Homo sapiens: one gene and its partners. The protein of the gene in region 2 interacts with the protein of the main gene of each other region in a pairwise test. Each region holds a gene or a part of one and is shown on either strand. Other genes may lie near its edges. The genes, in order: UBE2U, MIB1 and UBE2W.

What was found.
Region 1: the proteins of MIB1 (region 2) and UBE2U interact in a two-hybrid assay, tested with the Homo sapiens proteins (one large-scale study listed by BioGRID and IntAct).
Region 3: the proteins of MIB1 (region 2) and UBE2W interact in a two-hybrid assay, tested with the Homo sapiens proteins (one large-scale study listed by BioGRID and IntAct).

Annotation. Positions count from the first base shown.
Region 1 is NC_000001.11:64,259,093-64,262,749, forward strand, and holds part of UBE2U (ubiquitin-conjugating enzyme E2 U), read left to right. Parts: intron 1-1,510; coding exon 1,511-1,602; intron 1,603-3,657. UniProt on the Homo sapiens protein: Catalyzes the covalent attachment of ubiquitin to other proteins.
Region 2 is NC_000018.10:21,845,244-21,848,900, reverse strand, and holds part of MIB1 (E3 ubiquitin-protein ligase MIB1), read right to left. Parts: intron 1,958-3,657; coding exon 1,776-1,957; intron 1-1,775. UniProt on the Homo sapiens protein: E3 ubiquitin-protein ligase that mediates ubiquitination of Delta receptors, which act as ligands of Notch proteins.
Region 3 is NC_000008.11:73,785,689-73,788,917, forward strand, and holds the end of UBE2W (ubiquitin-conjugating enzyme E2 W), read right to left. Parts: 3' UTR 531-3,229; downstream 1-530. UniProt on the Homo sapiens protein: Accepts ubiquitin from the E1 complex and catalyzes its covalent attachment to other proteins.

The DNA of each region.
Region 1 (3,657 bases), on a different chromosome or scaffold from region 2:
AGTGTCTGTTGGCTGCATAAATGTCTTCTTTTGAGAAGTGTCTGTTCATATCCTTTGCCCACTTTTTGACGGGGTTGTTTGTTTTTTTCTTATAAATTTGTTTAAGTTCTTTGTAGATTCTGGGCATTACCCCTTTGTCAGATGGGTAGGTTGCAAAAATGTTCTCCCATTCTGTAGGTTGCCTGTTCACTCTGATGGTAGTTTCTTTTGCTGTGCAGAAGCTCTTTAGTTTAATTAGATCCCATTTGTCAAGTTTGGCTTTTGTTGCCGTTGCTTTTGGTGTTTTAGTCATGAAGTCCTTGCCCATGCCTATGTCCTGAATGGTATTGCCTAGATTTTCTTCTAGGGTTTTTATGGTTTTAGGTCTAACATTTAAGTCTTTAATTCATCTTGAATTAATTTTTGTATAAGATGTAAGGAAGGGATCCAGTTTCAGCTTTCTACATATGGCTAGCCAGTTTTCCCAGCACCATTTATTAAATAGGGAATCCTTTCCCCATTTCTTGTTTTTGACAAAAACATTTCTATGCCACCTACTTTTCTTCAAGAAAACTTTGTTGCCAAAAGTTTTCTTTTCATTATGTACCCCAAAAAGTAGTCGTCCCCCAAAAAAATTTTGTAAAATTTTTGATTTCCATATGTAAACTCTTTCTCCAAGGAAATGCTCTAATAGCTTGACTTGGGCTCATTGATGTCTCCCATAAGCCTGTTGTTTTATCCAGGATGAGTCATTAATTTTTCTGATAGAATTTCTCCCCTGTGTAGTGGGTTGAATCATGTCCCCACAAAACAAACACCTGTCCCCCCAGAACCTCAGCATATGACCTTATTTCAAAATAGGGTCTTTGCAGATATAAATAGTAATTAGTTAAGATGAGGCTATACTAGATTTAGGTGGACCCTGAGTCCAATGACTGTTGTCCTTATAAGAGAGCAGAACTACAGAGACCCACACGGAAAAGGTCATGTGACATTGGAAGCAGAGACTGGAGTGATGCAGCTATAAGCCATACAATGTAAAGGATTGCTGACAGCCAGCAGAAGCTAGGAAGAGGCAATAGAAGATTCTTCCCTAGGGCTTTCCGAGGGAGGGAGGCCCTGCTGCCACCTTGATCCCCAACATCTAGCTTCCAGAACTATGAGAGAATACATTTCTGTTATTTTAAGTCACCAAGTTTGTGGTCATTTGTTAAGGTGGCCCAAGGAAACTAATATACCTTGCTATACCACATGATGTTTTTATTACTTTTACTATGATGTTTTTTACTATGACATAAGTAGTAAACATGTCATATTCATTTGCTTTTCCAACTTCTATTCTGTTGGAAAGCACATATTGAAATAATTTTACTTTACCATTAAATTAGTCAAGACTCAGAATGGTTCCATATTCAAAGCCTATTGTTCTACTTTTATGTTTCATTTCATTTGTTTCACTTATTTTTCTCAGAAGTAAATATACCCTTACCAAAATTCATTTGGGAATTTAGTTTTCTTTTTCTCTTTCTAGGTATTCCGTTATCAAGTGTTGGCTTGCTAGAAAAAGAATGCCTCATGAAGTCACTCACTCAATGGAAGAAATTAAGCTCTGCCCAACTCTAAGTAAATCGATTCACTCTATTTGTTTTGCTTTTATAAATAACATATTATGCATAATATGCATAACTTTAAACTTTTTTCCATTTAAGTAAGTTGGAATATATGAGGGCTAATCCTTGTGTTCTCCTTTTAAGGTTGCTTTAACTTTTTCTGACTTTCCAAATTAATTTGGTAAATTAGTCACATAGGAATTGGAACTTTGACAGAATTGAGTTACTTATATTTTCAAGCTTACTACCCTTTAATAGGTTGATATACAATTTGAAATTTTAAGGCTAAGTTTCAAAATATGAAAAAGCAGCCAAAACACACAGAGCACTAATAAACTGATCCCTAAAACTCATTGTATATTCAAAGGTATATGCAATATGGTTGAAAAGAAAGAAACAATGCTGAGTTGTTTTTCGTGCTCTTTTAAAAATTACCATTTACTTGTTGGGATAGGTTGAGAGTGAGTCTTCAGCCGGGAGAGCTGGTAACTTACCATGGAAGTCAGCTGGTATAGAGGGGAAAGCATGACATTTGGGGATAGAGAACTTAGGTTCAGATTCCAGTTCTGTGCTACTATGGAAAGGTCACTCAACCTCTGAACTTAGTTTTTTTCATCCTTAGCTAGTACTGTGTATGTGGAAGATGTTCAACAAATCCTAGTTGCTAAAAATCTGCCCTTACTCACAGGATTCTTATGACTAAGTGACTCCATGTATAGACAATTTCTTTGTGAACTGAAAAGTACAAAAAAAAATAGTTACTGTTTTTTCCTGTCACCTGGCCACTAAACATAACAGCATATAAATGCCAGGCACAGGCAATCACCTTCATTCAGTGATTCTCCAAGGGCCCTGCCCCCGTATCTCCAAGTTTCTTTTCCCTGCTCAGTATCCACCTCTCTCCCTCCTAATTGTTTGGTGTGCCACGCAGATTTCCTCCTCTGTATTATCAGCCTCAGCCTTCTCCATTCAACTCTCCCTTCTTCCAGATTTCAGGGTACCTGTGAGGTAGGAAATGTTGCCTTCTCCAGCCTTGCTCTTTGCTTTCTCCATGATTTCCCTACTCCCCTCTGCAATCTCTGTCTTTCAACATCCCCACCATGTTCACCAGTGGAAGAGATCAGTTGGTTAAGTTGATGTGATTACAGTAATTTTTGTCTATGCTTTGTCAGACTGGTGACAAAGCTATGTCTCTATAGCTCAGCTCTGCTTATGTTTTTACCAGGTCTAAAATACTTTGTTTCCCATTTTCCTTCAGGATAAAATTTAGACTCTTTGACACAGAAAATCCTTAATGCTCTAATACTTGTCTCTGTCTTTGCAGTGACATTCCCTCCCTCTCCCCTTCACAACCTAAATGCTACACTAAGCTAGTGGGTCATGATTGTTTGTTCCCTACCTCATTTCATAAAAAAATTTGAGCAGTACACTGTGTTTTCTCATACCCCTACTCTAAATGCTCTTCTCTCCCCTTCTTTACTTTCTAATGCCTATGCATCCTTTGAGATTCAGTTCGGGTATTACCTTTTTTAGGAAACTTTCTTTGTGGGTTATCATAGCACTTCTACCATAGCCGTATCATGCTCTATTTGTTTTCTATTGCTGTGTCACAAATTAGCACACATTGAATGGTTTAAAACAACACACATTTATTATTTTACTGTTTCTGTGGGCCTGGAGTACAGGCACAGCTTAGCTGAATCCTCTGCTTAAGGTCTCAGAAAGCTGCAATCAAGGCTTTGGCTGGGCTGCATTCTCATCCTAGTGGTTTGAATGGGGGAGGAATCTGCTTCCCAGCCCAGTGAGGTTGTCGACAGAATCCATTTTCTTCTGTCTTTAGGAATGAGGGCCCTGGCTTCTGGCTGGGTATATGTGGGAGGCCTCCCTCAGCTGCTGAGGGCTGCACACAGTTCCTTGCCATATGGGCTCTCCCAGCCTGGCCTCCTACTTTATCCAGCAAGAGTCTTTAGAGCAAGTCTGATAGCAAGATGGAGTCATATGTGATGTAACATAATCATGTGAGTGAGACCTTATCACTTGCATCCTATTTTATTGGTTAGAAGTCATG
Region 2 (3,657 bases):
AACAAAATTTTGCTCAGAACCTGTTGTATCTATATAGAACCAGCAGAGGAAGGCATAGGAATAAAACAAAAATCCTCACTAGCCCCCATGTTAGTTGCCTTACTAAAGACGGAACAAAGCATCATCAGAGTCCACAACAGATAGGGCACTTTGGAAAATTTAACACTTCAGCTGCTGTTTTGACATTTTTAAGTGTATCCTTAAGGAACATAAAATTATATTACAGAAAGATAGACTGCATCCGTAAACACAGATACAAGGAACAGAAATACATATGACCACCTACAGCTACAGAAAAGGGATGCCCTGTTTCTACCACAATCTTCAGAAACTCACGAACACGTACACAACACGTACACAGAGGGTCCACCTTAGACTCCATTGTTTAAAAGTTATTACTGCAATAATTATAGTGCCTTATATCTTTATATTTATAGATTTTTTTTTTTGGAGACAGAATTTTGCTCTTGTTGCCCAGGCTGGAGTACAGTGGTGTGATCTCGGCTCACTGCTGCAACCTCCGCCTCCCGGTTCAAGCAATTCTCCTGCCTCAGCCTCCCAAGTAGCTGGGATTATAGGCATGCGCCCAGCTAGTTTTTGTATTTTTAGTAGAGACAGGGTCTCACCATGTTAGTCAGGCTGGTCTTGAACTCCTGACCTCAATCCACCTGCCTCGGCCTCCCAAAGTGCTCAGATTACAGGTGTGAGCCACCACGCCCGGCCGATGCATTCTCTTTTTGTAATAGAATTTCATGTTCCTTAACAATACACTTAAAGAAATGTATATACCTCACTATATTAATTTCCTCTATAACACAGTTCTATGCACAGATTCCAAAGAGATGACATTTCATCACTACACATAAATTATGAGAGAGGCAAGGAACACTAAGGTTAAGGAACAGCTACTGAAATTTCAGTGACAAGAACCAGGTACAAAGGGCAACAACAGTTGCACAGCACTGTTCAGATTTAAAAAAGCAATGAGATGTGTACCTTTTTGTACATCTATAAAATCTCATAAGGAAATTAGTTATGTCATAAATAATAATTAAAATCACTGACATATCTTTCAGAAAAAGAGACAAATGTGAAATGATCATCTTTAGAGAAAACTCCACCAGGACTTGGTGCATTCATTTGTTCATTCTCCACTGATACTGAGTGCACCTGTCAGGCACTGAGCAGGGTGCTACAGTTTGTGTGAGATATACCCTGTTCATGGAGTATAAGTTGCCTGTCTTAGGAAGATTCTATTTAAATTTTAAATATAGAGCCAGGCACAGTGGCACATGCATACAGTCCCAGCTACTGAGGATGAAGCAAGAGGATTGCTTGAGCCCAGGAGTTTAAGCCCAACCTGGGCAACACAGCAAGACGTATTTTTAAAAAATAATAATAATACAATAAAAAATAAATACAATTTAAAATACATGTAACATTAACAACAGCAATTTTACTAGAAGACTTTTTCTCATAAATCCCTCTAACACATGGGAGTACTAGAAGATCAGACTAGTTTAGAAAAGTTTCTCAGAACTTATTAAGTATAGAGCATTGCACTCAATAATGTGGGGAATATGGCATAAAATAAGAGACATGCTGCCTGCAGAAAAATTTTCAAGGAAGAAAAATTTCAGGAAAGAAAGGGTCAACACAAATATACAGGAAGAGCAAAGATGAAGACATTTTCAAGTAGCCACGTCCTCCATTACGAAACCACATGATATTTTCTGTACAGAATATTAAGTTTTATGATAATAAATAATACAAACCTGACTTTTTCCTTATGACACTTTGCCAGTGCTTTGCAGAGATTCGGATCAGGACAGAGATCAAGTGGCGATTGACCCTTCTTATTTCGAATGCTCAGGTCAGCACCATTGGCTGCCAAGAAACAGGCAATAGATGCTGCACTCTTCTTCTCTGCCCCCTGGGTACCAAGTCCCATTATTAACTGCAATAAAATAAAGAGTCATGATTTTCCCTCTAGGAATCTGCCATCAATTCTTGTCATCATATATATGTATGTGTGTGTGGTGGACACTTATGAGTTCTAGTCCTAATGTTCCCTCCCCACCACTCTACCCCTGGTTTTCTCAAGCATACACACAAGTATGCTTTCTCCAGTTGTAGAGGTGGACCTACATTCTCCAGCTGCAGAGGTGGACCAAACATGGCCCAAACCAGTCAGATACCTCTACCTTACCTATATGGCTAGAACCGGGATGGACACATAACACAAATCAAGTCAATTAAGCCCAACAGAACTCAAAAGTGGAACTTCTGATTGAGATACTAAAGAAACAGTACTCTCTTTCCTAATTAATTTGGCTCTGGAGCAGCTAGCAACCAACTTGAAACAATGACAGGAGAGACAACTGAGAAAAGAACCAATGACTAGGAATTGAGCCAAGATACGGAGAATGAGACAAATTAGGTTCTGATAATATTATCTGAGATTCTTCTCATCATCTTATGTGAAAATAGTCACAATAACTGTTAACATTTATTGAGTGTCTAAAATGGATCAAGTATTATTTTACACACTTTCCATGATCTTTACAACAACCTTATCGAGGTAAGTGCTCTCCTCTTCCCATTTTAAAATGAGAAAAAAAGAGGCACACCGAGCTAAGAGAACTTACCCATGGTCATAAATAAGGCAGAGGTCTCAAACACTTTGGTCTCAGAACCTTTTTACCCTCTAAAAAATGATTTTAAAATTCTTATGGAAATGTGAAGGACTTAGAATAGTCAAATAACTTCGAAAAAACAAGAAAACTGGAGGACTGACACTACCTGACTTCAACACGTATTATGTAGACAGTAATTAAGACTGGGGGCTGGTATCAAATAGCTAAAAACATAGACCAACAGAACAGAATACATGATCCAGAAAGAGACCTTCACATAAACAATTAACTGATTTTGGATAAAAGTATACTGGCAATTCAGTAGAAAAAGAAAGTCTTTTCAGCCGAGTGTGGTGGCTCATGCCTGTAATCCCAGGACTTTGGGAGGCTGAAGCAGACGGATCATGAGGTCAGGAGTTCGGGACCAGTCTGGCCAACATAGTGAAACCTTGTCTCTACTAAAAATACAAAAAATTAGCCAGGTGTGGTGGTGTGCACCTGCAATGCCAGCTACTTGGGAGGCTGAGGCAGGAGAATCGCGTGACCCCAGGAGGCAGAGGTTGCAGTGTGCCAAGATCACACCATTGCACTCCAGCCCAGGCAACAGTGCAAGACTCTGTCTCAAAAAAAAGAAAAAAGAAAAGAAACAAAGTCTTTTCAACTAATGGCACTGGAACAACTGGATATCCACAAGTAAATAAACCTGGATCCATATGTCACACAATATATACAAATTAACTCAAAAAGAATCATAGACCTAAACATAACAGCTAAAACTTTATAAACTTCTAGTACAAAACATAAAAGAAAACCTTAGCGATCTTGGGTTTGGCAAAGATATCTCAGACAGAACACACACAAAAAACACAAATGATGAAAGAAAAACTTGATAAATTAGACTTCCTCAAAATTAAAAAATTTGACTCTTCCAAATCACTATTAGAAGAATGAAAAGGGCTGGGTGTGGTGGCTCATGCCTGTAATCCCAGCACTTTGGGAGGCTGAGGCAGGCAGATCACGA
Region 3 (3,229 bases), on a different chromosome or scaffold from region 2:
TCAAGCTATTCTCCTGCCTCAGCCTCCCAAGTAGCCGGGATTACAGGCGCCCACCACCACGCCGTTATTTTATTTTTAGTAGATACGGGGTTTCACCATGTTGGCCAGGCTGGTCTCAAGCTCCTGACGTGATCCACCTGCCCAAAGTACTGGGATTACAGGCGTAAGCCACTGTGCCTGGCCCATCTTTATGCATGACAGTACTTTTCACAGACATGTTTCTTTGATAATCAGAAACTATCTGCACCTCTTAAGGCTTGTCACATTTTATATGATATGCTTTTCTATTTATTATCTCCCTTATTACATATGCCCTTTGAAGATATATACCTCATCTGCCATCCTTCTTGGCATATGAAAGGCACACAATAATTATCTGCTTAATGCTGGTTTTTAAACTCTATGTCAGGTTTACCTTTATGATTTTATGGTTCCTGAGATGTATTTAGTTTAAAACAATTAATTTGTGACAAGCAATTTGCCTCAGAGATAAAGATATGAGAAACACCTATAAAAAAAGCCAAAACCAATGAAGAATGATTAATGATTTATTTAAAAGTAGTTTTCTCAAACTCTCTGGGATAGAAAGAGCAGGGTCCTGTTATACATTTTACTCAGGTGGTGGTTCTGGATATATGTTTCAAAATAGCTAGCACCTAAGTTTCTTTGAGAAAGCTAGGATAAAAATACAAGCATAACCAAGTTAATTCAATACACACTTATTAAATGCCTATGTGCTACAGGTACTGTATACTAGGTACTGTGTGCTACGTGCTGGGGACACAAACACAATTGCAACACTGTCCCTACTGTTAAAAAGTTCAGGATAGATGACTGGTAGGGAGAGAAGAAAGGACAAGGATGATAACCTTTCAGCTACCTTTGAACTAGACCTTTCAGGTAGAAACGCAGATCATGAACATTCTAGGAGGGAAGAACATTAGCAGACGGCAGTGGAAGCTTGCATTGCTACTGCTTATGAAACAAGGTTTGTGGACAGCTGAAGAGCAGCCTAGGGACACCAAGGCCAGGTAGTGAAAGGCCCTAATGGTAAGGAGACTGGAGAGAAGGTAGAAATCTCAGAGACATTTTAAAGTTACACTCAACAGGACTTGAAAAATGCAAGGAGAGGACTACTGAGTATCATTGCTTGATTAAGTTGGATGGGAATGTCATTAAATTATAACAGGATAAAAGAAATATGTTTTCATTGAGGTATGGAAACATAAAATTTTAATGTTGAATTGGCTATCTGCAGGATACAGCCATCTATATTAGGATCTTGTCTAATGACATATATTCACCCACATTAAGTCCCTGAAGGCCAGATACAGACATGAGAAGATATTTCCTACCTTAGTTGATAAACTTTCCTTATTATTTCCATAATCCACTTAACTGTAAAGGGCGTAGGGATTCCCACTTATGTATTTTGCATTATGCAGGCAAACATTAAAAATAAATCTTACAGGCAACTAAAAAAATGGTTGAAAGGGGCTCCCAACAGGACAGATAACCACAGTGGCTTTGAGCTTTGTTGTCCAAGTACACAAAACTCTTAGCTGTCTCACTTGCTTCTTCAATTTAGCTTATGTTTAATTTTGTTACGTGTTATGTTAGTGTGAAAATGAGTAAGAAATATAGGGAGGACATAAACAGAGTCACTTATCCAGGGTAGCTTAAACTAATGGAGAAAAGTCAAATCCTACTATGGAAAGTAGAAATTAAGGATTATAATAAAGGAAAAGGGCATCATCAAAGTACAAAAGATGGTTCATATATTTATCTAACCATCTACTAACATAGTTGTGTAGGACGGCAGGAACAGCTTGAGACATGATCGTTTTTATGGCAGAATGGCTGCCTCAATGAGGACTAAGGTGCTCCTGGGGCAAGCAGATCCCCTGCAGAAAAGCTTAGAATTACCAGCAGAGCATATTTAATTCCTCCTGTCAGGAATAACAGATGCTGAGATAGCCCCTTCTTGTGGTTATTTCTTTCCTCTTCTTGCAGCTTCAAGAGTCACTCATTTAAGTCATTAGTTGATCTGTTTGTATACTCCAGAAAGCATCCAGAAGTTCTTAGAGTATGCCCTTAATTGTACAACTTGAAGTTCAGGAACATCGGACTCACGATAACTCTAAGCAAGTGCCTGGGTCTCCATTTCCATCTTCACTGAAAACACTCAGTCTTTAGTTGGGACTTATTAAAACACTAAAACTAGCTACATATTACATAAAGGTGATGTGTTAAATAGATGGTTTAAGTGACTATCTTCATTCTGTTGCACTCATTTTGGAAATGGACATGTTCCTGTTTCTATAATCCTTTAAAATTCAGTCTTTTGTGAAGAGAAACTACTGTACAAATACTTTTACGTCATAAACCAAAAAGAGGTCTGGTATCTATCCCATTTAGTATTCAAGTCTACAGAAAAAATCCAATAACAACTGCTTTATTATTAAAAGTTATGAAATTCCATAAAGCAAAGTAATCTGCATTCAACTAACAAGTCTGATACATGTATTAAAAAATATATAACATAGATTTGTCTGTTTTAACATTTATATTCTATTTAAAAAGTAGTGACTTTACATATTTTGCAACTTGAGTTTATAAAATATATACATCCACCCTATTCAAATCCTCAAGCATGAGCTTTCATTCCTATTAATAAAATGCACACTCTGTAGTTCTGAATAATAAAAGGAAAATGGCACCAACTAAAACAAACAAATTCATTTTGACCTGAACATGCATTTAGTTTTTGGCTACTAATCAACCCAATAATCCATTTTACCTTGAACCTGACCACCAATTTGCCTTTACATAAACAATCTGTGGTTAACTATGAAAAGATGCATTTTCATGGTATCTGACACAATTTACCAAGTTCCTTATGGTAGATTTCAGGCTTTAAATTGTAAGTTTCAGGCTTCAAAAGAGGCAGGATTATTAAATCTTTCCATACACCAGAAAATCTGACAAGTGATGTCATTTTGAAATCATGCTTTTGCCTTTGAGAAAACAACTTAGAATTGTTGTAGGACCAATGAGAAAACAACTTAGAATCGTTGTAGGACCATCCTTTTCTCAAAACCCAGAGAGTGTATGTGCCAAGGACTAGAACAAGAATTGGATCTCTCCTTTTCCCAGTCAACTCCTCACTCACCATATTAAAACTGGAGTTCTTGAGGTATGTTAAGATAGATCAGCTTCTATTCAGGCA